Regions from separate parts of the Homo sapiens genome. Here region 2 is linked to region 1. The links come from fine-mapping of genetic effects on gene expression. A gene starts in region 1. The other region holds a variant in brackets. All regions are shown on one strand. Distances are between the middles of the regions. Region 1 holds the start of MEGF8 (multiple EGF like domains 8). Region 2 overlaps MEGF8 (multiple EGF like domains 8).

Region 1 (14,814 bases):
AGGTCAGACCTAGGAGATGGGCGTGGAGGCTGCGCTCACAGATCAGGGCCCCAGGGGAAACAGGGCTGGGGACCGGCTCACCGAGGCGCAGGTGCCGTGGCTGCCACAGTAGGCTGAGCACTCCTGCAGGCCACAGTCAGGACCCCCCCAGCCCGGCTCGCAGGCACACACACCCGGTGGCTGGCACTGCCCGTGGCTCTGGCAGCCACCCGGGCACAGGGAGAAGCGGAATGAGGCGTTAAAGCCCAGCAGGTTGTAGTTGGCATCACTGAAGAGGTGCAGCAGCATCTGCGGGCACAAGGTGTGCTGGGTAAGGTGGGCAGGGCCTGGGGATTGTCCTGGGAGGGTGGCCCACTCCTGCCCCCTTCCACCCTGGGGGACCCAGAGCCTCATCTCCTTCCTTTGCCTCTCTCCACCTTCCCTTGTCCCTGTGCTCTGCTCTTGGATGCCCTCTTACTGACTCTCTGTCCCTCCTTTCTTCTTCCATTTCCCTCGGTGTATCTGCCACGGCCCCATCCCCACTAACCTTGCCTGAGGAAGCTTCGATGGGCGGAGGTCGGGTGCTCCCACTTAGACTGGCAAGCAGCGGCCCTCGCGGGGAGTCACCGTCATACACGAACAGGTAGTCATACGTGCACTCTGTGTCCAGGAAAAGGAAGTCCAGCAGGATCCGGTGCTGGGGGCTTGGGGCTGGGAGGTGAGCACAGAGGGACCAAGCTCTAAAGCGGACCTTCTCCCCACACCTCCCTGCAGCCTCCCACAATTGTACACCAAACCCTGATCCAGGTGATGCTGGGGGCTCAAGAATGAGTCAGACCTGGGCCCCGCCTTGAAGGGGCCCCCAGTCTCATAACCTAGGGCAGTCAAGGGCTGTGACAGCCAGAGGGACAGGAGCCCAGAGAAAGAATCATAATATTCCAGACCTCTAGAAAGGTCACCTGAGATCAGAATGAACACTCCCACCATTCAGATGGGAAAATTAAGTACAGAGAAAACCCCATCCCAGTGGCCACACAGAGCAGAATCCAGTGTTCCTGATGCCTCTCTCTTCCTGTCCATGCCTGAGTTTCAGACATGTCCAGGCTGGAGGGTCAAGGTCATAATCCCAGTGAGAAGAGCACCTCCGTGACACCACCCCTGGCCCACGCTGAATAGAGCTGCAAGAGAAGAGTCCAGCTTCTTCCCCCAGAACAGAGGCCTAACCTTGGAGCGGCATAGTTCCCCTCTGTCCCCATCCAGAGTCTCACCTCTGCTTATTGTGATGGTTACAAGCACAAACTCTGGAACCAGACTGCCTGAGCTTATGTCTTGGCTCTGCCACCAAATAGCTACCAGCTGTGTGATCTTGGCCAAGTAACCCACCCCCTCTGGATCGGTCTCCTCATCTCTAAAGTGGGATATAGTGGTACTGTGGTGGAATCAAACTTATAGGCCACTCCTGCCATTGAAAGTTAATTCCCTGCCTCTCGTATCTGGGAAGAGCCTTAGTGACTTGCTTGACCAATAAAAAAACAGCAGAAATTCTGAAACTTCCAAGGCTAGATCATAAGAAGACTTGTACTTTTCACCTGGGCCTCGTAGAATGCTCCTTCTCAGAACACAGCTGTCATGATAGGAAAAGCCAAAGCCGGCTGGGCACGGTGGCTCACACCTGTAATCCCAGCACTTTGAGAGGCCAAGGCAGGCGGATCACGAGGACAGGAGTTTGAGACCAGCCTAGCCAACATGGCGAAACCCCGTCTCTACTAAAAATACAAAAATTAGCTGGGCATGGTGGCGGGTGCCTGTAATCCCAGCTACTTGGGAGGCTGAGGCAGGAGAATTGCTTGAACCTGGGAGGCAGAGGTTGCAGTGAGCCGAGATTGTGCCATTGCACTCTAGCCTGGGGGACAAGAGCGAGACTTCGTCTCAAAAAAAAAAACAAAGAAAAGCCAAAGCCACAAGAAAAGGCCACACACAGGCATTCCGGCTGACAGTCCCAACTGAGCTTCCAGCTGACAGCCAGCATCAACTGCCAGCCCTGGGAGGGACCTTCCTGGATGTCCAGCCAAGGTGAACATTCAGCTGACTGCAGCCCCAGCTGACATCTGACTGCAACCTCATGAGGAGCAATAATGCACACGAAATGGTGACAACAGAGTGGGGTGGGTGGCTCACGCCTGTAATCCCAGCACTTTTGAGAGGCCAGGGCAGGTGGATCACCTGAGGTCAGGAGTTCCAGAACAGCCTGGCCAACATGGTGAAACCCTGTCTCTTACTAAAAAAAAATACAAAAATTAGCCAGGCATGGTGGTGCAAGTCCCAGCTACTCAGGAGGCTGAGGCAGGAGAATTGCTTGAACCCGGGAGGCAGAGGTTGCAGTGAGCCAAGATTGCACCACTGCACTCCAGCCTGGGCGACAGAGGGGACTCAAAAAAAAAAAAGAGGCTGGGTGCCGTGGGTCACGCCTATAATCCCAGCACTTTGGGAGGCCAAGGTGGGTGGATCGCTTGAGGTCAAGAGTTCGAGACCAGCCTGGCCAACATGGTGAAACCCCGTCTCTACTAAAAATACAAAAAATTAGCTGGATATGGTGGCACATGCTTGTAATCCCAGCTATTTGGGAGGCTGAGGCAGGAGAATTCTTGAACCCGGGAGGCAGAGGTTACAGTGAGCTGAGATCATGCCATTGCACTCCAGCCTGGGCGACAAGAGTGAAACTCTGTTTCAAAAAAAAAAAAAAGAAATGTTGACAATGGGGCCCACATATCGTGGAGAGTGCCACTACCCCTAACACTGTCACTGTCTTATTCTCTGCCAGTCCTAGTTCAGGTAGCCTCTCTCATTCCACATCCCACATGAGAAGCCTTCTGAACAGGCAGCTCAGGGGAGTCCTCTGGGTGAGGGAAATTAGGAGGCCTAGGCTCTGGCTCTGGCTCTGGCTCTGCCCATGACCAGCTGGAGGACCCTGGGCCAGCCCTTTCCCCCATGACCCTCAGTGTGCCTATCTGGATCCTGGAGACACTCAGCCACCACTGCCAATGGCTGGGTGATCCTGGGCCAGTTCCATGGGCTCTCTGAGCCTTAGTTTCCATGACTGTAAAATGGGGATAATTCCCCCCACCCACAAAGGCTGGGGTGAACATTCAACGAGGTGATGACTCCAGCCTGCCAGCTTAGAGCCAGAGTGTGCCCTGGCTGCCCGGCCTCATCCTGTCTCACCAGAACCACTGATCCAACCTCCTTCTTCCCCTGACATGAGTCTCTGATCTTCCCAACTCAACATCTGGCCCCGTCCCTCCCCTGCCCCAAAGCCCTGCATGGCTCCCTACCACCCTAGGAGAAAGTCCAGGTCCCTAACCTGCTGTTCAGACCCTCGCTTTGTCTCAAATCACCCCACTGCTTACAGCTCTAATGGGAGCTGGGCCTTTGTACAAGCTTCTCCCTCTGTCTGCAACATATTATCCCTTCCCACCACCAGGCCTCTTCCTGATGCCCCCTAGCTGGGTTAGATGCCCCCTCTCCAGGGTTCTCACATCCCATTATAACCTTCATTCCTCTGGGCCAGGAACATCTATGTCCAGGTCTGTCTCCCTGCAGCCTACAAGGCCCATAGAGCAGGGCCTGGATGTGGACCTAATTCCCTCTGCAGCATTGCCCAGACCCGGGCTTGGCAAAGGCTCAGGAAATGCTGGATGATGAAATGAAGAAATACATAAAAGACAGAATACTAAAGCTGGAAGCTCTCCCTCAGGCTCTAACCAGAGCCCCCAAGACATCAGACACAGACCCCACCCATGCTTTGGGGAATGCAGAAGAACCATTCAGCACGGCCACACAACCAGACCTCCCAGAATCTTACCAGCCTCAACCAAACTATAAAGCTCTGTTTCTGGAATCACAAGTACATCTTTGTTAAGTGCCTGCTGGAGGCCAGCTCACCATCTGCCTCCCCAAGTTCTTCCCTAAGTTGAAGGTCTTCTGTTTCCACCCAACCCCCATACCACTCCAGACAGAAATCTGATCCCAAACTCCCTCCTGCTCAAAAGCAGGATGCCTCTTATCCATGAGGATGTTATAAGGACTAGGACTGGGCTGGGCGTGGTGGCTCACGTCTGTAATCCCAGGGCAGATCATTTGAGGCCAGGAGTTTGAGACCAGCCTGGCCAACATAGAGAAACACCATCTCTACTAAAAATACAAAAATTAGCCCGGCATGGTGGCACATGCCTGTAATCCCAGCTACTCAGGAAACCAAGGAACAAGAATCACTTGAACCTGGGAAGCAGAAGCTGCAGTGAGCCGAGATCAAGCCACTGCACTCCAGCCTGGGCAACAGAGCAAGATTCTCTCTCGGAAAAAAAAAGTCTAGGACTAGATAAAGTATGAACATAATACAAAAGTTAGTAGGTTGGTTGTTTATCTTTTTTTTTTTTTTTTCCCTGAGACAGGGTCTCGCTCTGCTGCCCAGGCTGGAGTATAGCAGCGCAATCTCGGCTCACTGAGACCTCAGCCTCCTAGGCTCAAGGGATCTGCCCACCTCAGCCTCGCCGGTAGCTGGAGCTATAGGCACATGCCACCACCCACCAAGCCCAGCTAATCTTTTGTAATTTTTTTGTAGAGACAGTGTCTTACCATGTTGTTCAGGCTAGTCTCTAACTCCTGGGCTCGAGTAATCCTTGCATCTCAGATTCCCAAAGTGCTGGGATTACAGGCATGTGCCACTGCCCCTGGCTGGTTGTTTATTTTATAATAGATAGAGGAAGATGTTGGTTCTTATAGGTAAGAAGTGACAGGCATTGGTAAGAACAGAAGATCATCAAGGGGGATCTGGAGGTCTCCCAGCCTCCTCCCTCACCCCAACATCTACCCAGTTGGTCCCCAAGTCTTATAGGTGAAACTCCACAAACATCGATTGCACTGTCTACACCTCTCCACCCCTCTAAGCCCCTGCCCTAGTTAGGAACTCATCCTCTCTTGCCAGATCAGCTCATCAAGTCTCCAGTCTGCCCCACACCCAACCTGAGGGCAATGCCCTACTCCTGCTCAAAACCTCCTGTGGCTGCCCATCAACCCCAAGGGGAAGGCCAGGCTGCTCAGTGTGACATTCAAGGCCCCTCTTCCCCTGCTTCTGGCTCTCATTACCTCCCAGTCAAAAGTGCCATAAGACCAGGCAAACCTAGATGGGGATCCTGAGACACTCCAGCCACCCTCACGTCTTCATAGAGGCTGTTTGCTCCCTTTTCCCACTCAATAAACTCCTATGCATGCTTCAGAACCCTATTTTAGTGGCTCCTGCTCTGTTATCTGCAGCACAGTCCTCTTTCCTCCCTAGGTACATCCACCCCACCCCTCCACTTTCCTTCTTAGCCCTGAGCACTGTCTCAGTGAACACACTGGGGGCTGAATATCTGTGTCCAGCCCCACCATTCCCAACCAGTCTGAGACGTTTTTTCTTTTTTTTTGAGGTAGAGTCTCGCTCTGTCACCCAGGCTGGAACCACAGATGTGCGCCACCACGCAGGGCTAATTTTTGTAGTTTTAGTAGAGAGGGGGTTTCTTCATGTCGGCCAGGCTGGTCTCTAAAGCCTGACGTCAGGTGATCCGCCCCACTTGGTCTCCCAAAGTGCTGGGATTACAGGCGTGAGCCACCGCACCTGGCCTAACCAGTCTGGGACTCTTTAAGGCCAGAGAGTGATTTATATCCAGCACACAGACCCCTTCGCCACACACACACACACACACACACTTCCTATTCTGTTCTCATCCCACTAGCTTGACAGGAATGGCCCCCAAGCTGGGAACAGGTAGACATGCTATCACTGAGAAACAGGCCTTCATCCATACCCCACACAGCAGCCAGAGAGATCTTCTAAAACATAAATCAGATCATGTCCTCTCCCTGCTCAAAACCCTTCCATAGCTCCCCAGAGCCCCCAGACAAAGACAAAGCTCCACAGCCTCCCAAGGGAGGCCCTGCATGATCCAGGCTCTGTCACACCTCTGGCCTTTGCCCAGGACCTCCCCTGTCTGGAGGCCAGCTTTTACATCCACTACTCTGTGAGGCCTTCCTGGGCTTCTGCAGGTACTGCCTTTCAACTTCTCTTTCACCCCTGTATTGCCCTCAGGATACAGCTCAAAATCACAGAGCCCTACACCTGCTGGCTCCTCCCACCCTGCAGCCTCTGGCTCATTCGTTGTCTTGTATTCTATGTTTTTGTTTTTGTTTCAGATGGAGTCTCGCTCTGCCGCCCAGACTGGAGCGTAGTGGCACAATATTGGCTCACTGCAACCTCCAGGTTCAAGTGATTCTTGTGCCTCAGCCTCCTGAGAAGCTGGGACTACAGGCGCGCGCCATCACACCCAGCTAATTTTTGTATTTTTAGTAGAGATGGGGTTTCACCATACTGCCCAGGCTGGTCTCAAACTCCTGACTTCAGGCGATCTGCCGGCCTCGGCCTCCCAAAGTGCTGGGATTACAGGCATGAGCCACCATACCCTGCCAGTATTCTATGTTTTAACACACTGGATTTCTAGTTCTTCAAAAGCATCACTCTCCCGCTTCCCCGCCTTTGCACAGCTATTCTTGCCTGGAATGCCCTTCTGCTCCCTCGTACAGATGCCTCTGATCTCAGCTATACCCCAGGTTAAGCCACATGTCTTCACAGAGAAAGAGCCACTGGGGCAGGGTTCTGAGGCATGCATAGGAGTTTATTGGGTGGAAAAGGAAAACAAACAGCCTCGGAGTGGGTTTGTCTCTCCCACTGACTGGGAGCCCAGAAGGGTAGGGCTGGGGCCTTTCCTCCCACTCCTGACAGATTCCTATTGGTCCTTTAAGTCTCAGCTTAGACATTTCCTCCTCCAGGAAGCCTCTCTGTTCTCCCCGGCCCCAGATCAGGCACTTTCTCTGGGCTCTCCCAGGCCTCTGGGGTTCCTCCATCAAAGACCACTCTTGTCTCTCACTATTAATGTGTTTGTCTCCCCAACTAGACTCCAAGACCTAAGTCACCAGGGATTGCTGGAGCTGTCTCAGTCTGGGCTATGTCCAATGGGAAACATAATGTCTGGCACATGAATGACTGAAGAAAAATGCTTTTATTGAAGTACTTCACAAATAACAACAACAATAATCCTAATGCCATTTATTGAACAGTTACTATATGCCACACATCAGGCATGTTAAATACCTGTTTTCATTTCATTCCAACAACTCTATGAGGTGAGTACTGTTGTTATCCCATTTGTGGGGGAAGGAAACAGAACCTCAGAGAAAGAAAACCACCTGCTCAAAGTCACAAAGCTAATAATAAGAAGCCAGGCACAGTGGCTCACACCTACAATCCCAACACTTTGGGAGGCTGAGGTGCGAGGATCGTTTGAGCCCAAGAGTTCAGGACTAGCCTGGGCGACATGGTGAGACTCTGTCTCTACACACTCAGTTACTTGGGAGGCTGAGGTGGGAGGATCACTTGAGCCCAGGAGGTCGAGGCTGCAGTAAGTAAATTGTGTTGGTACCATTGCACTCCAGCCTGGGTGACAGAGTGAGGCCCCCATCTCAAAAAAAAAAAAAAAAAAAAGTAGTAGTAGTAGAACCAAATTCAAAGCCAAATGATTGGACCCAGACCCTGAGTTCTTAACAGTTACTCAGAAGGCCCGGCACTGATGCTCCTGTCTTGTAATTGTAAATCTGGGTGTAGGTGCATCTCCCCCACCAGACTTGGAGGCCTTCCAGGGCAGGGCCCAGGTTGGCTGCAACCCTGGGTGTCAGGCATTTTAGAGCAAAAGGCCTGGACCAGAACCGAGCTCTGGGAATGTGGTGAGTGGATGAATGCACACATGAATGAACTACCAGCGAATTAGTGAGTGACCCACGCGGCCCCACTCACCCTCGATGAGCCACTCGCAGTTGCCATTGACGCTGTAGTTGCCCGCACCATCCGTCACGAAGCCTGGCGCCTCCCGCAGCACCTGCCGCTGCCCCTTGCAGTCCCCCGCCCGGGCCCCAGGGGACAGCGACCCCAGCACGGCCAAGGCCAAAACCAGTGCCATGGCCAGAACCTTGCCCAGGGCCATCGCCGCCTCCTGCACTGACCCTTAGAGCGGGGACAGGCCGTAAAAACCTGGAGAGGACCCTCTACCCGGGGTGAGGCCCTGCAAATGCGACCTCTATAGGCATAACATGACCTTGTAGATCGAAGAGGTCCCGGAGACCCGGCAGTCCCGGCGAAGGGTACGGCCACTGCTGACAGGCTCTGGAAGCCGAGGGCTGAGCCCTATAGAGCGATGGAAGGCCCTGTATATGGAGTCATTATGGACGGGGCCGAACCCTAGGGACCGTAGGAGTCCCCTATAGACACAGGGCTCCATAGGGGGCCGATCCCATGAACAGTGCCCAGCATTACGGACTCAGGCTGCTGCAGGCCAAACGGACCTTATAGACGGGTGGGTCCCCAGGGGGCGAAGGGCTCTACGGCCCGGCAGGAGCCTCCATAGAGGCTGCGGGCCGGGACAGGCTAGGTTCGGATGGTCCAGGAGAGACTCCTCCAGCCGGGGGCGGGGCGCGAGCGGGTGCCGGGGGCGGAGCCCGTCTTCAGGGGTTCGGGCCTGGACCCCACAGACCCAATCCCTTTGCTCACCCACCCTCGCCTCCCTCCGAAGCCGGATGGGCCAGATCAGAGAGACGAGGGGACGCTTGGGCCAGAGCGGCCGCGGGAAGACCCGCTGTGGGAGGGCGAGGGGGCGGGAGCCGAGCAGCCGCTGTGGGAGGGACGGCGAAGAGGAGGCGAGAAGTTACAGAGCGGCCGGTCAGAGCGGCCCTGGGAGGACTGCGGAGCGCCCAACCCCAACCCTCCATAAAGGGAGACTTCCGGGGAAATCCCCGCCCATTTGTTCCCAACCGCATGCGCAGCAGCGTCCTCCTGGAGGGAGAGAAATACACATATGCGCAGTGCTAAGATCGTAACCCAAACTCTGGGTGCCTGTGGTTCAGCAAAGCATGGGCCACTGGAGGGCGCCTCTACCTCTGAGTGAGGAAAGGAAGGCAAAAATAAAGGAGCGGTGCAAGACCCTGCTAGATGTTTGATCATCTTCAATGTTCCCACATTCTGGGGCAACATAAAGATCAGGTTATACAGGCCCCTGCCTCCGGTTCCAAATTCCCATTTCACAGATGGACACACTGAGGTCCCGAGCCTGACATAGTTCTGGCTCAGCCCCGCCGCTGAACACCATCAAGATGCAAAAGAAGCCATGTTATAGATAAAAACGAATCCTTTTTTATTTTGGCAAGAAGGGGTAAAATGTCTTTCTGCCAGGGACCCGAGGGAAGGCCCCCGGAATGGAGATGCGGCAGATGGAGTACGGGTCCGAGGTCACAGATCCGAGGGAGGGTTTCAGGGTCGAGACCAGCATCGCAATATCCATCCCGGGGTCGCAGAGTCCTGGAGAGTCACAGGCAGGGTCCCGGCGGTCACCACGGGTGTTCCGGAGTCCAGCGGGGTCAGAGGTCTCGAAGGGGGCCAGGGGGCCGGAGGTCACGGAACAGCGGGAGCCCAGAATCCGGCGCCGCTCGGGGCAGGGGCTGAGGGAGGGGACGGGGAGAGCGGCTCCCGCGGGACCGTTTGGCACAGAGGGGAGGGGGGCGGGACGCAGCGTACCCAACCTGGGCGCGCGGGGTGGGAAGGGTCGGGAAGGCCGGGGATGGGCGAGCTCTCGGGCCGGGATAAAGCAGGGGTCCGGAGCCCGGCCGGGGCCCGGTCATGGCCCATGGGGCAGGGGCGGGCAGGGGTGCTCAGACCGGGGGTGCAGTGCCCCCGGCCGTGTGCATGCTGAAGTATTCGGTGAAGCCGGTGTGCGGCGCTGCCGTCTGGGGCACGAGCGGCTGGTAGGGCGGCGTCGGGCCGTCCCAGCCCGAGTCGGCCGCCTTGGGGAACCGAGCGGGAAGTGGGGGGGAGGCTGCGCCCGGCTCGGCCATGGTCACCACGCGGCCCCTCGGGGCCACCGCCGCCGCCACCGCTGTCTCCTCCACCTGCTTCCCGGCCTGGGAGGGGGGTCAGGGTCAGAGGCCGTCCGGGACCCTCGGGGGGCAGATGCGGCCCCGAAGGCCCGTCCCCCTCCCCCGGAGAACCCTTCCACCCCAGGTGTGGACGCACGTTGTCAGTCAGGGAAGGACTGGGTGGCGGGGCGCCTGGGCAGCGGGGCCAGGTACTCAAAGGGCGGCGTCGGGGCGCGCGGGGCGAACTCCGGCGGCGGCCGGGGAGCTGGGGGAGAGCCGCGGAAGGCGGGCGGTGGGGGCACGGCGCAGGGAGTCTGCGGGGGTGTGCGCAACAGCGCCAGAACCCAGTCAGGCAGGGTGGGCGCGGGCGCCAGGGGACGGTCGCGGCGCGGTGTTGGGGCGCGGGGAGTGCGAAAGGCAGGAGGAGGGCTCAGGGGTCCGGGCGCTGGGGGCGGCGGCGGGGCCGGGAGCGGGGTCAGGTACTCCAGGGGCGGCGCCAGCAGCTCCTCGGGCGCTGGGGCCGCGGGGCTTACGGAGGTGGCGGGCGGGGGGATGGAGAAGAGCTCCGTGAAGTTGGGCACCGAGTCGCTGATAAACGTCACGTTCCCATAGACGTGCTGCGGGAAGGCCTTGTCAGCGGATTGGCTCCCTCCGGGTCCAGGGACTCCGGCTGAAGCGATCTGCGACGTGCGCACGTGGTACGGGAAGTTCTTGTTGGCCGCTGATGGGCGGGTCATGATCTGAGGCCAGGGCCAGGAGCAGGTGTGAGAGGCACTGTCAGGCCGGAGGCTGTCCCCATAAACTTGGGGTCCGAAGGATTCCCTTTCAGTTGACATCCACCACACTTCCCTGAAGCCATTCACACTGGATTAGGCGTCCCCTCTGGGCTCTCCAAATGCCCTGGACCCTCACCTTTTCCCTTCAACAAAACTCGGCCTGTGCTTCCTCCATCAGAGGCCTGATCACTGAGCTGTCACTGATTGCTTAGGGTCAGCGTCCTGCACTGTATGATAGCCACTGGCTGCATGTAGCTTAAATTTAATCAAAATAAAATTTAAATTTTGGTCACACTCCTCACTACACACTCACTATGCACTACCCACATTCAAGTGCTCAACAGCCACATGTGGTTAGTAGCTCCCATATTGGAAAGTGCAGGTAATAGGATATTTTCATAAATACAGAAAGTTCAATTGGACAGCAACTAATAGACTCTAAAATGTCTCGATGAGGCAGGAACCAGACTCTTCTGTTCCCTACTGAGTCCCTAGTACCTTCTAGAACCATGCCTGGCGCATATAAGCCTTCAGTAAATATTGGTGGGCAAGGCGCCATGGCTCACGCCTGTAATCCCAGCACTTGGGGAGGCCGAGGCGGGCGGATCACCTGAGGTCAGGAGTTTGAGACCAGCATGGCCAACATGGTGAAACTCCATCTCTACTAAAAATACAAAAATTAGCCAGGTGTGGTGGTGCGCCTGTAATCCCAGCTACTTGGGAGGCTAAGGCAGGAGAATTGCTTGAACCCAGGAGGCAGAGGTTGCAGTGAGCCGAGATCATGCCACTGCACTCCAACCTGGACGACAGAGGAAGATTCCATCTCAAAAAAAAAAAATTTAAAATAAATAAATAAATAAATAAATATTGGTGGAATGTAGGGATGTCTGGTACCAGTTAGTCTGATAGGCTGTGAAGGCAGGGACTGGGTGTGACTCCACCGCCATATCCCGGAAACCTAACACAGCTCTTCTAAGGTTGTGCTGAAAAAAATGAACAAGGAGCTGAAAGCAATGAGCGTTGAGATACCCAGGTGGAGCTGTGCTGAGCTAACGTGAGCATCCTTAGGAAGGAAGCTGGCTGAGATACAGCAGGAAGGGCGCTGTGCTTGCCGTTCTGAGCCTGCATCCCGCCTCTGGGATCTGTAGCTCACTGAGTATGGGATCTGGGGCATGTTGATTAAACTCCCTGAGCCTCGCTGTGGGGAAAAGGGACTGTAGCGCCTACTTGGAAAGATGAGAGGGTGGAAATGAAAACCACTGGTGCAGAGCCCAGCACATGATGGGTTCTCAGCATTTCTCCTCTTTCTGTCCCTTTCTGACTTCCTGCAGAGCTTCAGGATAGACCAGCCTGGGAAGGTGAGCGAGTCTGTACCTATGTCAGCCTCTGAGGCAAAGGATGGGGACCTGTCCCCTCCCTCGGTGGCTGGGCCCACTCCCTACACGGGGTACGTTGTAGATCCCTGGAGTCAGAAGCTGGGACACTGGGTCATGCCTGTTGCCCTTTCTGGTTCCCCTTCATTTCAGACCTTGTGGTCTGCTGGAGAAGGATAGGGTTCAAAGTATTTGCCTGCCGCCAAAGGCCACGGAGCCCTGGCACGTCACTTCTCCTCTCTGGGCCTTAGCTTCCCCGCTCTGTGTAGTGGGAACAATGTCAATTATCCACCCTCTCCTGGAGCTGCTCTGACAATTAAACAAGAGGGCAGGAGTAAATGCATATGGATGTTCCTAGAATGAAACAGACTGGTTCAAGACAGGTGCCCAGTGAACAATTGATGAATAAATTAATGAATATTAGAACTGTCACCAAGAATGTCAGATAGGATGTGAACCAGGGCAAAGAATAGACGTGGTGGGGGCCAGGCGCAGTGGCTCACTCCTGTAATCCCAGCACTTTGGGAGGCCGAGGCGGGCGGATCATGAGGTCAGGAGATCGAGACCATCCTGGCCAACATAGTGAAACCCCGTCTCTACTAAAAATACAAAAAAAATTTGCTAGGCGTGGTGGTGGGCGCCTGTAGTCCCAGCTACTAGGGAGGCTGAGGCAGGGGAATGGCATGAACTTGGGAGGCAGAAGTTGCAGTGAGCCGAGATCGCACCTCTGCACTCCAGCCTGGGCAACAGAGCAAGACTCCGTCTCAAAAAAAAAAAAAAAAAAAAACCACTTAACCGGGCATGGTGGCGTGCTCCTGTAGTCCCAGCTACTCCGGAGGCTGAGGCAGGAGAACCTGGGAGGTGGAGGTTGCAGTGAGCCAAGATCGCGCCACTGCACTCCAGCCTAGTGACAGAGTGAGACTCCGTCTCAAAAAAAAAAAAAAAAGATGTGGTGCTGTACCCTCCTGTTGCCGACCCAGGAGCCCAAAAGCTTCACCCTGTGCCACCCCAGATGCTTCTTCCTGAACAGTGGCCTGTGATGGCAGAATTTGGGCAGGGGCAGGGGGAGAGTGGAGAGATCAAGGAGGGTGGGGAAGGCAGTGGGGATACAAAAGAGAAATGGAAGAATCTGGGGACACAGGGTCAGGAATGGAAATGGGAAGGGAGGGCAAAGAGAGAGGATGGGGGTTGAGGAAAGAAGCCAGGACACAAAGTTGGAGAGGGGAACAGAAGAAAATGGGCATGGGCCCGGCGAGGTGGCCCATGCCTGTAATCCCAGCACTTTGGGAGGCTGAGACGGGTGGATCACCTGAGGTCAGGAGTTTGAGACTAGCCTGACCAACATGGTGAAACCCTGCCTTTACTAAAAATACAAAAAATTAGCTGCATGTGGTGGTGGGCACCTGTAATCCCAGCTACTCGGGAGGCTGAGGCAGAAGAATCACTTGAACCCGGGAGGCGGAGTTTGCAGGGAGCCGAGATCAAGCCATTGCACTCCAGCCTGGGAGACAGAGTGAGACTCTGTCTCGAAAAAAAAAAAGAGAAGAAAATGGACTCTGAGGAGCACAATAGAGGAGACTGCAGGAACCAAGCAGGCTCTCAATAAAGGGAGAATGACTAAAAGGAAAATGGATCAAGACCTCAGAACAGGAGGTCCAGCAGATCAGGTGTAGGAGCCTCACACATCTTCTGCCCTCGGGTCCTCCCCTCCACCCCCCACAGATGCCCATCCTCACCAGAAACACGCCATGGGCGTACAAGTGGATCCCCAGCTGGATGCCATTGACAATCTTCTCCCGGGCCCACTTGGGGATGCCGAAATTGGCAATCAGGGCCATGACAGGAACCGCAAAGAACCTGAAGGGGAAGTATTGGGTCAGTAGAGACACTGCTCCTGTCCTCCACCCCACCCTATAGCCCCACCTCGCCTGCCATGTACACACGCAGACCCCAGGCAGGTCCCAAACTGGAGGGAAGCCAGTGTGACCTTCAGAAGCCAGAGACTGAAATGGGGCAGGACTGGACTGGGAAATTCTGAGGGGCAAGAAGGAGGTTCAATTTAACTCAGTTCCACACCACCCCAAATCCTGGCATCTGATAAGAAATCAATAGACAGCCCGGGCACGGTGGCTCACGCCTATAATCCCAGCACTTTGGGAGGCCAAGGCAGGCAGATCACCTGAGGTTGGGAGTTCGAGACCAGCCTGACCAACATGGTGACACCCCGTCTCTATTAAAAATACAAAATTAGCTGGGTGTGGTGGCATGCACCTGTAATCCCAGCTATTTGGAAGGCTGAAGCAGGGGAATCACGTGAACCTGGGAGGCGGAGGCTGCAGTGAGCGGAGATTGTACCACTGCACTCCAGCCTGGGCAACAAGAGCGAAACTCCATCTCAAAAAAAAAAAAAAAAAAAGAAGAAATCAGGCCGGGCACAGTGGCTTATGCCTGTAATCCCAGTACTTTGGGAGGCCAAGGCAGGTGGATCACCTGAGGTCAGGAGTTCCAGACCAGCCTGGCCAATATGGTGGAAACCACATCTCTACTAAAAATACATAAATTAGCAGGGTGTGGTGGCATGCGCCTGTAGTCCCAGCTACTCGGGAGGCTGAGGCAGAAGAATCACTTGAATTTAGGAGGCGGAGGTTGCAGTGAGCTGAGATCGTGCCACTGCACTCCAGCCTGGGCGACAG
Region 2 (14,814 bases), 19 kb before region 1:
TGGCCACGGCGTGGGTCCCCGTGCCCGTTGCACTGGCAGGGCCGGCAGCCCCTAGAGCCTGTGGCGTTGCCGAAGCTGCCGGGCCGGCATCGTTCGCAGTGCTCCCCCCATGTCCAGTCTGTGGAGGCCCCAGCAGGTGGGACAGAGTCAAGTCAAGGGTGGAAACAGGCCCAGGCCTACTGGCTCAGCTAAACCCTGACCCCACCCAGCCGCTTCAAAGGTGAGAAACCAAGGCCCAGATCAGGGGAAACAGCAAGTCCCAAGAGGGGGAACTGAAGCCCAACCAGAGTGACGGGTGGCACTGAAACCTGTTTGAGTCAGGAACAGGAATGGGGCAGGGGACCTAGAGCTGCATGAGAGGACACTGAGGCCCCCTCCAAGAAGAGCAAACTGGAGCCCCAAGAAGGGAGGAGGCTCCCTGGGTCCAGGCTGGGCCCAGGACAAGGGCTGCTTACCCTGGCACTCGTCGCAGAAGCCAGGGCCCCGCTTGCGGCAGTGGCTGTGGAAGCTGCAGCCACAGTCCCGGGAGCAGCGGGGGGCTGGCGGACCCGGGGCGGGTGTGGGAGGGGGCAGGTCTGATGTCCAGCCTAGGTCACACACGCAGGTAAAGTCCGGGGGGCCACTGCACACACCATGGCCACAGTCCTCCAAGCACCTGAGGGGCCGTGTTGGGGGTGGGGAAAGCGCCAGGCAGGCCCAGAGCCCCTAAAGCACCCCATCATCTCCACCCACCATGACACCATCAAAGCCACTGGCTGTTTCCATGGTTTTGGGCTATGTGGGTGACCCTGTCTCCAAGGTAACTCCATGCATCACCAAGCCTGTCTCTATAGCAACCACATAGCACCACTGTGAAAACCTCTTTCAACTAGGTCCTCCTCCGCCTCCATGGCAACGCTGAAGACTATGGCCCACAGCCTATGGGTGCCCCATTTCCATGGTAACCAGGGTTACACTGGGGACCCTGTCACTCTAATAAGGACCTAGTGTGCAAGGTAAAAACCCCTGGCTAACTGGGGATGCTGGTTCCACAGGAGGGGACCCAGCGCCATGATGGCTTCCTCCCTCCACCTCCATGTGCCCCAGCCTGGGGCAACATCTCCATAGCAACCCCCGCCTCACTCACGTGCGGTTGCAGTGTGAGATGCCATCACCCTGGTAGCCCCGCTGGCAGTGACACTCGTAGCTGAGGGGCGTGTTCAGGCAGGTCGCCCGCGGGTGGCACCGGGCCAGGCCCAGGCGACACTCATCCACGTCAGGACAGCGGGCGTATGCCCAGCGGGCAGGGAGGGCCACGGGAAGCCCCAGGCCCTCCCCCACCCACAGGGAGCAGTTACCCCCACCGAGGGGCCCTGAGAAGTCCCCCTGTAGGCACCTGCAGGGTGGGAGAGTGAAGAAGCGGGGGACAACATAGAAACAGGAGCCATACATAGAAACAATGACAGGGAGAGAGGAGGCCAATTGGAAGGAGAGGGATGCAAATACAAATTTGGAAAGAGAGACAGAGAAACCAGGAGAAGTCGCAGACAAAAACAATTTTGGAAGACAGAAGAGAGACATAGACAGAGATGCAGTGAAAGGGAGAGCGGAGAGACAGAAACAGACAAGGAGAAAGAAAACGAATCGCAGAGAGCCGGAAAAGGAGGAAAAATGGAGAAAAAAGAGCGGGAGGGTAAAATAAACAACAGAAAAACAGTACGGAAAAGGGAAGGTGGCCATGGGATGGGCAAGAGGGCAGAGAAGCAAAGAGGCCATTAGAATGACCGGTCATGGAGGAAGGACACAGCCGGGCACCCTGCCCACCCACCTGCCCGGGCTCACCGTCCCAGTGTGGGGTTGTCCTCATTGCCACACCAGCCACACTCGTGGCTCTGCAGACACTCATGGCAGGTCAGGAAGCCATCGCAGCTCCGGCACCGTGGCTCCGAGTGTACACTGCAGGATGGCAGGGGTGGGGGTCAGAGCCCCAGCCCCTTGCCGGTGGGGAATCTTCCTCTGTTAGCCCTGCCCCAGGGACCATACCTGTCGTCCCAGCCTCGACAGCCCCCGTGTGGGTACCGGGCCAAGTAGGCAGCAAACAGGAAGCAGGTGTGGGTGGACTGGCACCAGGCGCACTGGCTAGAGTTGGCCAGGCAGTCCTCACAGGTCAGTCGCCTGGGGTGGGGAGCAGGGGGCCAGGTCACTCCACAGCCAGCACACATCCCCAGGCACATCCACCCACCCACTCCCTGCACCCAGCCTGACTCACTGGCTGCAGAGCGGGGGACACTCCTCTGGACTCTTCAGGGCACCCCGACCCCGGCCCCGCCGGCTGCATGCCGCGTCCCCTTTGCGGCTGGTGCTCTGATGCCACTCACAGAAGGGGTCCTGGGGGTCAGTTGGGCAGAGGAGTCAGAACCCCACTCAGCCCTTTCCTTTGGACTCCCAGTGCCCATCCCACCCCCTGCCCCACCCTGCAGACTGTCCCTGTAAGGCCATCTCCCTCCCCAGCTGCCTGCGTCTCTGGACCCCTCCCTTCGACCACAGACACCCATGGGTCGGCCCGCCCAGCACCCACTGTCTCCTTTAGGCAATAGCACCCCTTCTGTGTGGTCCGGGTGGGGCTTATTCAATCCTCAGGATCCAGAGGTGGGCAAGGGGCCACATTCCCTCCCCACAACTCCAGTCATTGGCCCAGGAGCCTGTACAAGGCCCAACCAGAGCCACAGAAGTGCAATTCTGGGACTTCTGTTGAGCTCCTGGATGGTGGTGGGGTGGGGGGAGAGAAATAGGAAGCCTCACTCTGTTTGAGACAGAGCAGGGACTTAGAGCCTGGACCCTTAACGGCTCCCTTGCCACTCACAAGGAAACAAACCCTCCCAGGGAACAAGAGGAAGCAGGGTGTCGAGGGCTGCCTGACATCACTTGGAGGTGGCAGGCCTGAAGGCCTACTCCTGGGCTCCAGTGCCTATGCTGAGAAACTCCCCGCTAGTGGAAAAGGATGGAGTTGCATTCTCTGGCCCCTACAACAGGGAGAGTCCTGACTCCCCAGGTGCCTCTCTCTACAGCTCCATCTCACCCTCCCCACCAGGCTCTGCAGATCAAGGCCAAAAGCCCTTGCTGTTTCCCCCACACCCCCCACCAGGGGTTCCCTTGACTGCCCATTGCCTGCTGTGGCTCCCTCCACCTTGTGACCTCCCCTGGTGGCCCCACAGGCACCTGGGTGCAGGCGTGGCAGTCCCGATGCTCCTCGCAGAGTGGGCAGAGGGTAGGCACCAGCACCAGCAGGGACCCACCAGCCCCGTCATCCCCGCAATGGGCTCCGCCCTGGCGCAGGTGGCAGGTGGCACTGGTCAGGCACCAGCCACAGCCCTGGTCTGCCAAGCAGCCCAGGCAGGAAGAATAGGAGGTGCAGGACGACGAGCGGTAGGGCTCCAGGAAGAAGAAGGAGATCTCCTGGGGAAGGGGTCACAGGAAGGCAGCAGTCAAGGTCTGGGGCAGGGGTCAGAGTCTGGCGCTAACTGAAAGTAAGGGTTTGGAGCCCAGGTTGAGAACTCAGGCACATAGGAAGTCAGGATTTAGGAAATCAGTAAAGAGGTCCAAGGTCTGGAGGAATCTGGAGATTATTATAGGTCAAAGTATGGAGGGCAGAGGTCAGGGTCAGCAGGGTCAAGGGTGAGGAGTCAGAAGATGGGGGTCAAAATATGGGATCAGGTTAGGGTCTATAGGCAGAGGTCAGGGGCCACAGGGTTCAAGAGGAGGTCCAGAGTTCAGAGGCCAAGAGTTAAGGAGTCCGAGGCCAGAATCTAGGGATTTCAGAGTTTGTGGCCTGGGGTTCAGAAAGCCCAGGTGATCTGAGGCTGGGGCCTGCGGCTAGGGTTGGAGGTAGGTCCTGGGTACTCACGCTGCCTCCTGGCACACCAGTCCGATCCCACAGCAGAGTTAGCTCGCTGTGCCCAGGGCCTGCCGAGCCATTGAGCTGGCCCTGGATCTCTACTGCATACTTGTGGTCCCGCCCAGGCAGAGGGAAGAGGCGAGCAGACCCAGGGCGCTGCAGCCGCCGCGTCTCCTTCTCCTGATGAGCCACCCAGCGCCCCACCTCCTCCTGGGGTAGGTGTGAGTGATAGGCAGGGGCCTCAGAACCCTTCCCATTCCTTCCTCAGACCCCTGATACCTCCAAACCCACCCTGTACCCCACCCCCTCCTAAGAAGAGGGCCTCAGAGCTCCTTAGATCCTGAGAACCTCAGAGGTGAGACCCCCAGGGACCCTCCTCCTCAGGGGCTTTTTTTTTTTTTTTTTTCTTGAGACAGGGTCTCATTCCATCACTCAGGCTGAAGTGCAGTGATGCGATCATGGCTCACTGCAGCCTCAACTTCCCAGGTTCAAGTGATCCTCCCACCTCAGCCTCCCAAATAGCTGGGACTACAGGTGCATGCTACCATGGCCAGCTAATTTTTGTATTTTTTGGAGAGATGATGTCTCGCCATGTTTCCCAGGCTAGTCCCAAACTTCTGGGTTCAGGCAATCCACCTGCCCCTACCTCCCAAAGGGCTGGGATTACAGGTGTACACCTCCATGCCCAGCCTTCAGGGGCCTTTCAAGTCTGACTCAGACCTTCCTCACCTGCTTCAAAGTTTCCCTCAAATTCTGCTCACAATTGAAAACCTCAGCACCCTCCCTCCTCTACGAAAGATCCATTCCCAGCCAGGCGCAGTGGCTTACGCCTGTAATCCCAGCACTTTGGGAGGCCAAGGTGGCGGATCATCTGAGGTCAGGAGTTCCAAACCAGCCTGGCCAACATGGTGAAAACCCATCTTTACTTAAAATGCAAAAAAATTAGCCAGGAGTGCTGATGCACATCTGTAATCCCAGCTACGTGGGAGGCTGAGGCAGAAGAATTGCTTGAACCTGGGAGGTGAAGGTAGCAGTGAGCCGAGATCGCGCCACTGCACTCCAGCCTGGACAACAGAGTGAGACTCTGTCTTACACACACACAAAAAATCCATCTCCTGCCTCTAATTTCTCCCCAGCCCTTCCCCAGAACCTTCAAATCACCACAGATGCTCTATACCACACCCCTAACTCCCTATTTACCATAAACAACCCCCTGAATGTCCCAGGCGGCCTCACCATGTTCTCCGTGTCAGGGCCACGGGCCATCCGGGCCAGGACGTGTAGGCGCTGGGCCCGCGTCCACACGGCCACGTCCTCAGCCCCTGGTCCACCTGGCCCTCCAGGCAGCATTGGGTAGATGAAGCCACGGTAGACCAGGGACACATCTGTCTCTGCGCTGGGTGTTAGGGTGATGGTCGTGCTGCGGACAATTGAGACCTGTGCCACCAGGGATGGGTGTATGTGTGAGTCCCTTTCTGGACTCACAGGCCACATCAGAGCCAGAAAAGACTGGTCAACCCAACCTTCTTCCCCATTTTACCAAATGAGAGACTGAGGCAGAGGGACAGGGGTTAGGTGGCTTGTCAAAGGTCACTCTGGGAAAAGAGGCAAGACCTAAATTCAGACAATAGACGACAGGGTCCCAGAGCCCACCTTTACCCCTGGCCTCTAGCCATTTCCATCTCACATTAAAACTCCAGGACTGGACACTTCAGTGTCTTCTTATCCAACTCCTCACCTTTCCAGCTAAGCACTTCAAAGCCCAGATCTAATATTCAAAGTGGCAGACAAAGTGCAAGATTTATTTTCCTGGTGTGTGATTTTGTAATAGCAGAAGAGTGGAACAGTCCAAGTGTTCACCAGTGGGAGGCTATTTAAATAAACTACAAATGTAAATGGAATATTATACAACTTAAAAAAAAAAAGAAGAATGAAGGCTGGGCACGGCGGGCACTTTGGGAGGCCGAGGTGGGCAGATCACTTGAGGTCAGGAGTTCAAGACCAGCCTGACCAACATGGTGAAACCCCATCTCTACTAAATACAAAAAATTAGCCGGGAGTGGTAGCGTGCACTTGTAATCCCAGCTACTTGGGAGCCTGAGGCAGGAGAATCGTTCAAACCCGGGAGGCAGAGGTTGCACTGAGCCGAGATTGCGCCATTGCACTCCAGCCTGTGCAACAAGAGCAAAACTCCGTCTCAAAACAAACAAAAAAAATACAAAAAACAGCCAGGCATGGTGGTGCATGTTTGTAATCCCAGCTACTTGGGAGGCTAAGGTGGGAAGATCACTTAAGCCCGGGAGGCAGGGTTGCAGTGAGCTGAAATCGCTTGCCACTGCACTCCAGCCTGGGCGATAGAGAGAGACTCCATCTCAAAAAAAAAAAAAAAAAAAGAATGAGAGTGTTTCTTAAGTTCTGTTATGGGAAGCTTGCCAGGAAGAAAAAAAGGAAGCAGTCGTATAATGTTCATAGTATATTAGTTTAGTGAGAAAGAAAAATGATATGATGTCATGCTTACTTGCATCTGAATAGGTAAATTCTGGAATAAGATCAAAGAAACCCAAATGGATCTTCCAGGGAGGTATGGTGGCCTTAAGTTGCAGCCATGCTGGAGCTAGATAATTTTGGACCACTTAAGGGGTAGGGAGT[G/T]GGGTAAATGAGAGAGACTGTCCATTTAGTGACTTTTTTTTCTTTTTCTTTTTCTTTTTTTTTTTTTTTTTTTTTGAGACAGAGTCTCTCTCTGTCACCCAGGCTGGAGTGCAGTGACATGATCTCAGCTGACTGCAAGCTCCACCTCTCGGGTTCACGCCATTCTCCTGCTTCAGACTCCTGAGTAGCTGGGACTACAGGTGCTCACCACCACACCCAGCTAATTTTTTTGTATTTTTATTAGAGACAGGGCTTCACTGTGTTAGCCAGGACGGTCTCGCTCTCCTGACCTTGTAATCCGCCTGCCTTGGCCTCACAAAGTGCTGGGATTACCGGCGTGAGCCACCGTGCCCAGCCTTTTATTTATTTATTTATTTTTAATTAAAATGGAGTCTCACTCTGTTGCCCAGGCTGCAATGCAGTGGCGTGATCTTGGGTCACTGTAACCTCTGCCTCCCAGGCTCAAGAGATACTCCTCCCTCAGCCTCCCAGGTAGCTGGGACTACAGGCACGCATCACCATGAGCAGCTAATTTTTGTATTTTTAGTAGAGATGGGATTTCGTAATGTTGGCCAGGCTGATCTCAAACTCCTGACCTCAAGTGATCCTCCCACCTTAGCCTCCCAAAGTGCTGGGATTACAGGCACCCGACATCACGCCCGGCTAATTTTTGTAGTTTTAGTAGAGACAGGGTTTCACCATGTTGGCCAGGCTGGTCTCAAACTCCTGACCTCAAGAGATCCGCCCACCTCGGCCGGAATTACAGGCGTGAGCCACCGTGCCCAGCCCCAATGACTTTTGATGTCACTGTGATTTTTGAACCATGTGAATATATGAGCTATTTTTAAAATCAATAAAGAGGCCGGGCATGGTGGCTCATGCCTGTAATCCCAGCACTTTGGGAGGCTGAGGCAGGCAGATCATGAGGTCAGGAGATCGAGACCATGCTGGCTAACACAGTGAAACCCCATCTCTACTAAAAATACAAAAAATTAGCCGAGTGTGGTGGCAAGTGCCTGTAGTTCCAGCTACTCAGCAGGCTGAGGCAGGAGAATCACTTGAACCCGGGAGCTGCAGGTTGCAGTGAGCCAAGATCGTGCCACTGCACTCCAGCCTGGGCGACAGAGAGAGAGACTCTGTCTCAACAACAACAACAAAAAATCAATAAAGAGGTACTGTGGAAAACAGTTTGGACATTCCTCAATAAGATGAATATGGAATTAACATATAACCCAGCAATTCTGCTCCTAGGTATACAGCCACAAGAATTGAAAACAGATGTTCAAACAAAAACGTGTACACAAGTGCTCATACCAGCATTATTCACAATAGTCAAAAGATGGAAACAGCCCAAACGTCCATCAGCTGATGAATGGATAAACAAAATGTGGTCCATCTATACAATGGAATATTACTCAACCATAAAAAGGAATAGAGTTCCTTTCCAAATGAAGTTATAAAATGAATGAGCCTTGAAAACATTACGCTGAGTGAAAGAAGCCAGACACAAAAGGCCACATAGTACAGGCCTCCATGTACATGAAATGTCCAGAACTGGCAAATCCAGAGATGGAAAACAGATTAGTAGCTGCCAGGGACCGGGGGGAAGAGTGGAATAGAGAGTGACTACTTAGTGAGTCCAGGGTTGTCCTCTGGGGTGATGAAAATGTTCTGTAACAAGATAGTGGTGATGATTGCACAATATTGTAAATGTGCTAAATGTCACTGATGAAAAATTTTATGTGTATTTTACCACAATGTAAAAATTCTTTTTAAAATCTATAAGGAGGCCAGGCACAGCGGCTCATGCCTGTAATCCCAGAGTTTTGGGAGGCCAAGGCAGGCGGATCATTTAAAGTCAAGAGCTCAAGACCAGCCTGACCAACATGGTGAAACTTCGTCTTCTACTAAAATACAAAAATTAGCTGGGCGCAGTGGCGGGCATCTGTAATCTCGGCTACTCAGGAGGCTGAGGCAGGAGAATCACTTGAACCCAGGAGGCAGAGGTTGCAGTGAGCTGAGACTGCGCCACTGCACTTCAGCCTGGGTGACAGAGCAAGACTCCCTCTCAAAAAAAATAAAAAATAAAGTCCATAAGGAAAATAAGACCCTTGAATGTAAAGAGTTTTGGAGTAAACATAAGAGTGATAAAGATGCATTTGAGAAAAAACAAACCCTAGGATCAGGATCATCAACACCCCACCCAGGGCCACGCCTCCTACCCACCTTGTCAGGCTGGGAGGTATTGGGCGGCTGCTGAAAGGTGAGCAAGTGCAGGCCAGGCAGGAAGCTCTGGGTGACGCAGGCCTCCAGGGACGTGACGAAGACAGGCGCAGGCCCCCACCAGCCCACAGTGCCTGAGATCTGCTCCCCTCGGCAGCGGGCCTGCTCTGAGAAGACAGGGGGTGGGGGCCGGTGGGTCAGTGTGGAGTGCTCTGGCCCCCTCCTGCCGGCCCACTGCTGCGGACACTCACCAGGCCTAGGGAGGCAGCTCTCATTGTGCACGCACCAGCCCAGGGTGCCAGGTCCCCGTGGAGGGGCTGTGGGGCTGCTGAAGGCCAGGCAGGCCTGGCAGTCACCCAGGAGGCGGCCCAGGCCCAGGCAGCTGGCGGCTGGACACTGCGAGGAGGAGAGGGGAAAGGGCTCACTGTCAACTGGAGCTCAAGAGATCTGGGAAGGAAGGGCTGTGGATACAGGGTCCTGCGATGGAAAGGGCGAAAAAACTGAAGAACGGGGAGTTGACTTGGAATGTGGGAGATCCAGAGGACGGGGGATGCGGGGATGGGGTCACGGGCTCAAAAGGGTCGGGCTGGGTGGGATAGGCAAAGGTTCAGGGCTCCGCAGTCAGGAATCAGGAAGGAGGATCTCCGGCATGAAAACAAGTCTCCCAGTTGAGGGAAAGTTCTTGTCCATCTGGTTAGGCAGAGGGAGACACTGAGGGCAGGTCTCTATGCTAGGGAACAGAGGGTCTAGGGCTGTCACTCACAGCCCCCAAGGGGGTCCCAGGAGGGGGTGCAGCTTGGCAGGCTCCTTGGCACCAACTGCATTCCGGGTCCCGGGAGCAGACGCTGTGGTCTGTGTACATGGAGCAGTAGTCCAAGTGGTACTGCAGGGAGGCAAGGGGACAGAGGGGGAGGCAAGGGGACGGAGGAGGAGGCCTCTCAGACCTGGGCCGGCCTCCCAAGTCCCCGCTTGCTTTAGCTATCCCAGAGGACCCTGAGTGCTCAGCATGCCCATCCATTCCTCCCCCAGGCCCAGGGACCTCTAGCTCCTCTTTCCTCTGCCCCAGGGACCTCCTTCCCTTCTCTCATGGTCCTAGGGATCCCCACTCCTTCTCCCAGGGATCCCCTCCTGCCTTTCCCCTCACCTGTGGAAACCCTGCTACCTCCTCCCCCCAGCCACCCTTTCCCTGTCACCCCAGTGCTCACGTCAGGGGCAGGTGCCTGGAACACAAAGGGGGGCACCTTGTACGCCATCAAGTCCCCACGGGGCCGGCCGCTGTACCCCCCAGCCACCAACAGGACGCTGCCACCAAGCACCGCAGCTACATGTGAGTACCGACCACTGGGAGGCGCTGCTCGGCCTAGGGGAATAGAGACCCCAATGACATTATTAGACCCCCAGCCCCTCCACCACCTCCATGGCTCCTGATTCTCCTGGGCCACAGCCCAGCCTTCTATTCCGGTGGCTGCTTCAACCTCACCTGCCCAAGGACACTCTCCCAGCCCACCTGGCCCTGAACAAGCTGAGCTCCCTCGCCCCTACCCAAATCATCTTTCTGATCTTTAGGGTCAGAAAGACTTGGGTTCAAATCCTGCATCTACCACTTACTTGGGTTCAAATCGTGGATCAACTACTGACTAGCTGTGTGACCCTGGACAGGAGACTGAACTTCTCTGAGTCTTGGTTTCCTCCTCTATAAAAAGAACCATCATCTCGTCCTCAGGGAGCTGGGAGGACTGAAGAATCTGCTGAGCCCCCAGTAGGCTGCCTCAGTCTCCCATTTTTGTCTGTCTAGCACCAGCCTCTCTTCTGGTGATAGCGCCTGATTTTCCTCTGGAAAACCAACCTTTCCCTTTCCCAATCTGTGAGACTTAGGTGGAGTTGTCCCTGGTTCTGGCAGAAGTGAGGCCTTAGCCCAGGCCCATCAGTCTCAGTGACTGGCTCAGGGAGGGGTACAGGGCCTGATTCTCAATTCTTGGGGCAAAGACACTCCCTTCTTTCTGGGCATTTTATGGCAGAAGATAATCCACGAGCTGCCTGTGACCATCTACACAAGGCAAGAGACTGAAGTGAACCCAGCTGAAAAATTGAGTGAGAAATGGCTGATGCCATTTTGTGAGCACCTAGATCCAGCCCAGCCTGAAGACAGCCCCTACAGTTTTCACTCAAGTGAGCCAGGAAATTCCTTTTTTTTTTTTTTGAGACAGAGTCTCGCTTTGTCACCCAGGCTGCAGTGCCGTGCCACGATCTCAGCTCACTGCAAGCTCTGTCTCCCGGGTTCACACCATTCTCCTGCCTCAGCCTCCCAAGTAGCTGAGACTACAGGCGCCCGCCACCAAGCCCGGCTAATTTTTTGTGTTTTAGTAAAAACGGGGTTTTACTGTGTTAGCCAGGACAGTCTCGATCTCCTGACCTCGTGATCCACTCGCCTCGGCCTCCCAAAGTGCTGGGATTACAGGCATGAGCCACCGTGCCCAGCCAGAAATTCTCCTTTTTGCTTAAGCCAGCTGGGTTGGGTTTCTGTCAGTTACAGCCAAGAATCCTGACTGACAGGTAAGTGGTCAGTGAATGGTGACTTCCCTACCCTCTTACTGACCTGCGTGCACTGTAAACGTGTGGGACTTGGCCCAGGTAATCACAAACTGCGAAGCAGGAAGAGGCCTCCAGAAACATCACACTCCTGACTCCTGCCCAGTGAAGGGGACCAAGGGATAGGCAGACGAGACCTAGAATGAGGGCCTCAGACACCAGGCCTGGACTTTATTCCTGATGGTCACACAGGGTTCCTCTGGGGCCTTTCCTCCTTCCCATCCCTTAAGTGCTAAGGTTCCTTCCTTACGCTTGTCCTCTCCTCTCTCTCCTTTTCAGGGAGGAGGAGTGAACAGATGCGACTCTGGGAAGCCCACACGTCCCCGAAGTGATACGCCCAACTTGCAGGTATAAGCATCTTCTGAAGAGAGGGCCTGTGGCTTTCATCCGATTTCAAAGCAGTGTCTGATTTAATGAGAGTGAAAGGTTTCTCCATATCTCCTCCCTGGTGACCCCTCTGGCCCTGAGACAGGACCCTAACTGCTATAAGAAAGACAATATGTCTGGGCGTGGTAGTTCACGTCTATAATCACAGCACGTTGGGAGGCTGGATCTCACAAGGCTCGCTTGAGGCCAGGAGTTCAACACTAGCCTGGACAACACAGCAAGACCCTATCTCTAAAAAACAAAAATATTTTATTTAATTAGCCAGGCGTGGTATTGTGTGCCTATGGTCACAGCTATTTGGGAGGCTGAGATGGAAGGATGACTTGAGCCTAGGAGCTCAAGACCACTCTGGGCAACATAGGGAGGCCTCATCTCTACAAAAAATTTTAAAAAATCTGTTTTTATGTGTGTTTTTTTTTTTTTTTTTTTTTGGAGATGGAGTATCCCTCTGTTACCCAGGCTGGAGTGCAGTGGCACGATCTTGGCTCACTGCAACCTCCGCCTCCTGGGTTCAAGCGATTCTCCTGCCTCAGCCTCCTGAGTAGCTGTGACCACAGGCATCTACCACCACGCCAGCTAATTTTTGTATTTTTAGTAGAGACAGGGTTTCACCATATTAACCAGGCTGGTCTCGAACTCCTGACCTCACGATTTTCCCGCCTTGGCCTCCCAAAGTGCTGGCATTACAGGAATGAGCCACAGTGCCTGGCCAAAAATTCTGTTTTTAATTAGCTGGGAAGGGTAGCATGGGCCTGTGGTCCCAACCACTTGGGAGGCAGAGGTGGGAGGACTGCTTGAGCCCGGGAGGTCAAGGCTGCAGTGGGCTATGACTGCACCACTGCACTCCAGGTTGGGCAACAGAACAAGACTCTGCCTCTAAAATAGTAACAATAGGCCGGGCGTGGTGGCTCATGCCTGTAATCCCAGAACTTTGGGAGGCCCAGGCAGGCAGATTACTTAAGGTCAGGACTTCAAGACCAGCCTGGCAAACATGGCAAAACTTCAACTCTACCAAAAATACAAAAATTAGCCAGGAGTGGTGGTGCACATCTATAATCCCAGCTACTCAGGAGGCTGAGGCAGGAGAATAGCTTGAACACGGGAGGTGGAGGTTGCAGTGAGTGGAGACTATGCTACCGCACTCCAGCCTGGGTGACAGAGCAAGACTCCATCTCAAGTAAAATAAAACAAAATAGTAACAACAATAATAATAATGCCTGGCCGGGCACGGTGGCTCATGCTTATAATCCTAGCACTTTGGGAGGCCCAGGCGGGCAGATCACAAGGTCAACACAGTGAAACCCCATCTCTACTAAAAAAATACAAAAATTAGGCCAGGCACGGTGGCTCACGCCTGTAATCCCAGCACTTTGGGAGGCCGAGGCAGATGGATCACTTGAGGCCAGGAGTTCGAGACCCACCTGGTCAACATGGCAAACCCCATCTCTACTAAAAATACAAAAATTAGCCGGGTGTGGTGGCACACGCTTCTAGTCCCAGCTACTCAGAAGGCTGAAGCATGAGAATTGCTTGAACCTCGGAGGCAGAGATTGGAGTGAGCCAAGATCACACCACTGCACTTCAGTCTGGGCAACAGAGCAAGACTCTGTCTCAAAAATAAATAATAAAAATTTTAAAAAAGAAAGGAAATGTGTGGAGCACTTCACTGGGCATCATTCTTGAAGGATCATCTCAATTTACTCTTACAGCTATCCAATGGCATTACGTGTTATAATTTTCATTTCACAGATGAGCAAACTGAGGCACAGAGATTAAGTAATAGTTTTTGTTTTTGTTTTTTTGGGGACGGAATCTCACTCTGTTGCCCAGGTGGGAGTGCAGTGGTGCGAACTCAGCTCACTGCAAGCTCTGCCTCCCAGGTTCAAGCAATTCTCCTGCCTCAGTCTCCTGAGTAGCTGGGACTACAGGCGCATGCCACCATGACTAGCTAATTTTTTGTATTTTTAGTAGAGATGGGGTTTTACCATGTTAACCAGGATGGTCTCAAACCCCTGACCTCATGATCTGCCCGCCATGGCGTCCTAAAGTGCTGGGATTACAGGTGTGAGCCACTGCACCCGGCCTTAAGTGATAGTTTTATACAGATTGTTGTTTGGGGATAGCCATGCTGGCTCTGTCACTTATCTACTGTGATCTTGAAAAAGTTACTGCTAAAGATACTATCAACAGAGTAAACAATGTACAGAATGTGAGAAAATATTTGCAAACTATGCATCCAACAAAGATCTAACATCCAGAACCTATAAGGAACTTAAATAAACTAACAAGCAAAAAACAACCCCATTAAAAAGTAGACAAAGGACATGAACAGACATTTTTCAAAAGAAGACATACACGTGGCCAATAAGCATATGAAAAAATGCTCAATATCACTAATCATGAGAGAAATGCAAATCAAAACCACAATGAGATACCATCTCACACCAGTCAGAATGGCTATTATCAAAAAGTCAAAAAATAACACATGCGAGTGAGGTTGCAGATGGGAATGTAAATTAGTTCAGGCATTGTGGAAAGCAGTTTGAAGATTTCTCAAATAACTTAAAACAGAATTACCATTTGACCCAGCAATCCCATTATCGGGTATATACCCCAAGGAATATAAATTGTTCTAACGTGTATGTTCAAAGCAGCACTGTTCACAATAGCAAAGACATGGAATCAACCTAAATGCCCATCAATGATAGACTGGATAAAGAAAATGGAGGCCAGGCGCATTGGCTCACGCCTGTAATCCCAGCAATTTGGGAGGCCGAGGCAGGTGGATCACCTGAGGTCAGGAGTTTGAGACCAGCCTAGCCAACATGGTGAAACCCCGTCTCTACTAAAAATACAAAAATTAGCCGGCTGTGGTGGTAGGCGCCTGTAATCCATCTACTCGGGAGGCTGAGGCAGGAGAATCGCTTGAACCTGGGAGGTGGAGGTTGCAGTGAGCCGAGATCCCGCCACTGCACTCCAGCCTGGGCGACAGAGCGAAACTCCGTCTCAAAAAAAAAAAAAAAAAAAAAAAAAAATACATAGAAAGAAAAAAAAAAAAAGAAAATGTGGTACGTATACATCATAGAATACTA

The links. PIP is the estimated chance that this variant, and not a neighbour inherited with it, causes the effect.
Region 2: its variant is the best candidate, but not a certain one, in a credible set for the expression of MEGF8 in whole blood (TOPMed, PIP 0.58).

Annotation. Positions count from the first base shown.
Region 1 is chr19:42,319,481-42,334,294 of GRCh38, reverse strand. MEGF8 (multiple EGF like domains 8) reads right to left here and starts at 8,660. Exons shown (of 42, transcript NM_001271938.2): 1 at 7,865-8,660; 2 at 527-690; 3 at 82-288. The coding sequence starts at 8,051. It overlaps TMEM145 (transmembrane protein 145), which reads right to left. Exons shown (of 15, transcript NM_173633.3): 13 at 13,858-13,978; 14 at 10,506-10,712; 15 at 9,231-9,558. The coding sequence ends at 9,478. RefSeq lists silencers at 7,995-8,064, 8,075-8,144, 8,365-8,504, 8,545-8,734.
Region 2 is chr19:42,338,769-42,353,582 of GRCh38, reverse strand. It overlaps MEGF8 (multiple EGF like domains 8), which reads right to left. Exons shown (of 42, transcript NM_001271938.2): 9 at 9,952-10,106; 10 at 9,510-9,629; 11 at 8,998-9,142; 12 at 8,750-8,913; 13 at 5,111-5,311; 14 at 3,884-4,084; 15 at 3,199-3,435; 16 at 2,249-2,367; 17 at 2,023-2,154; 18 at 1,822-1,935; 19 at 1,127-1,375; 20 at 456-655; 21 at 1-118. MIR8077 (microRNA 8077) reads right to left here and starts at 2,452; the gene lies at 2,378-2,452. RefSeq lists an enhancer at 3,279-3,780. The variant G/T (reference allele first, on the strand shown) is at 6,524.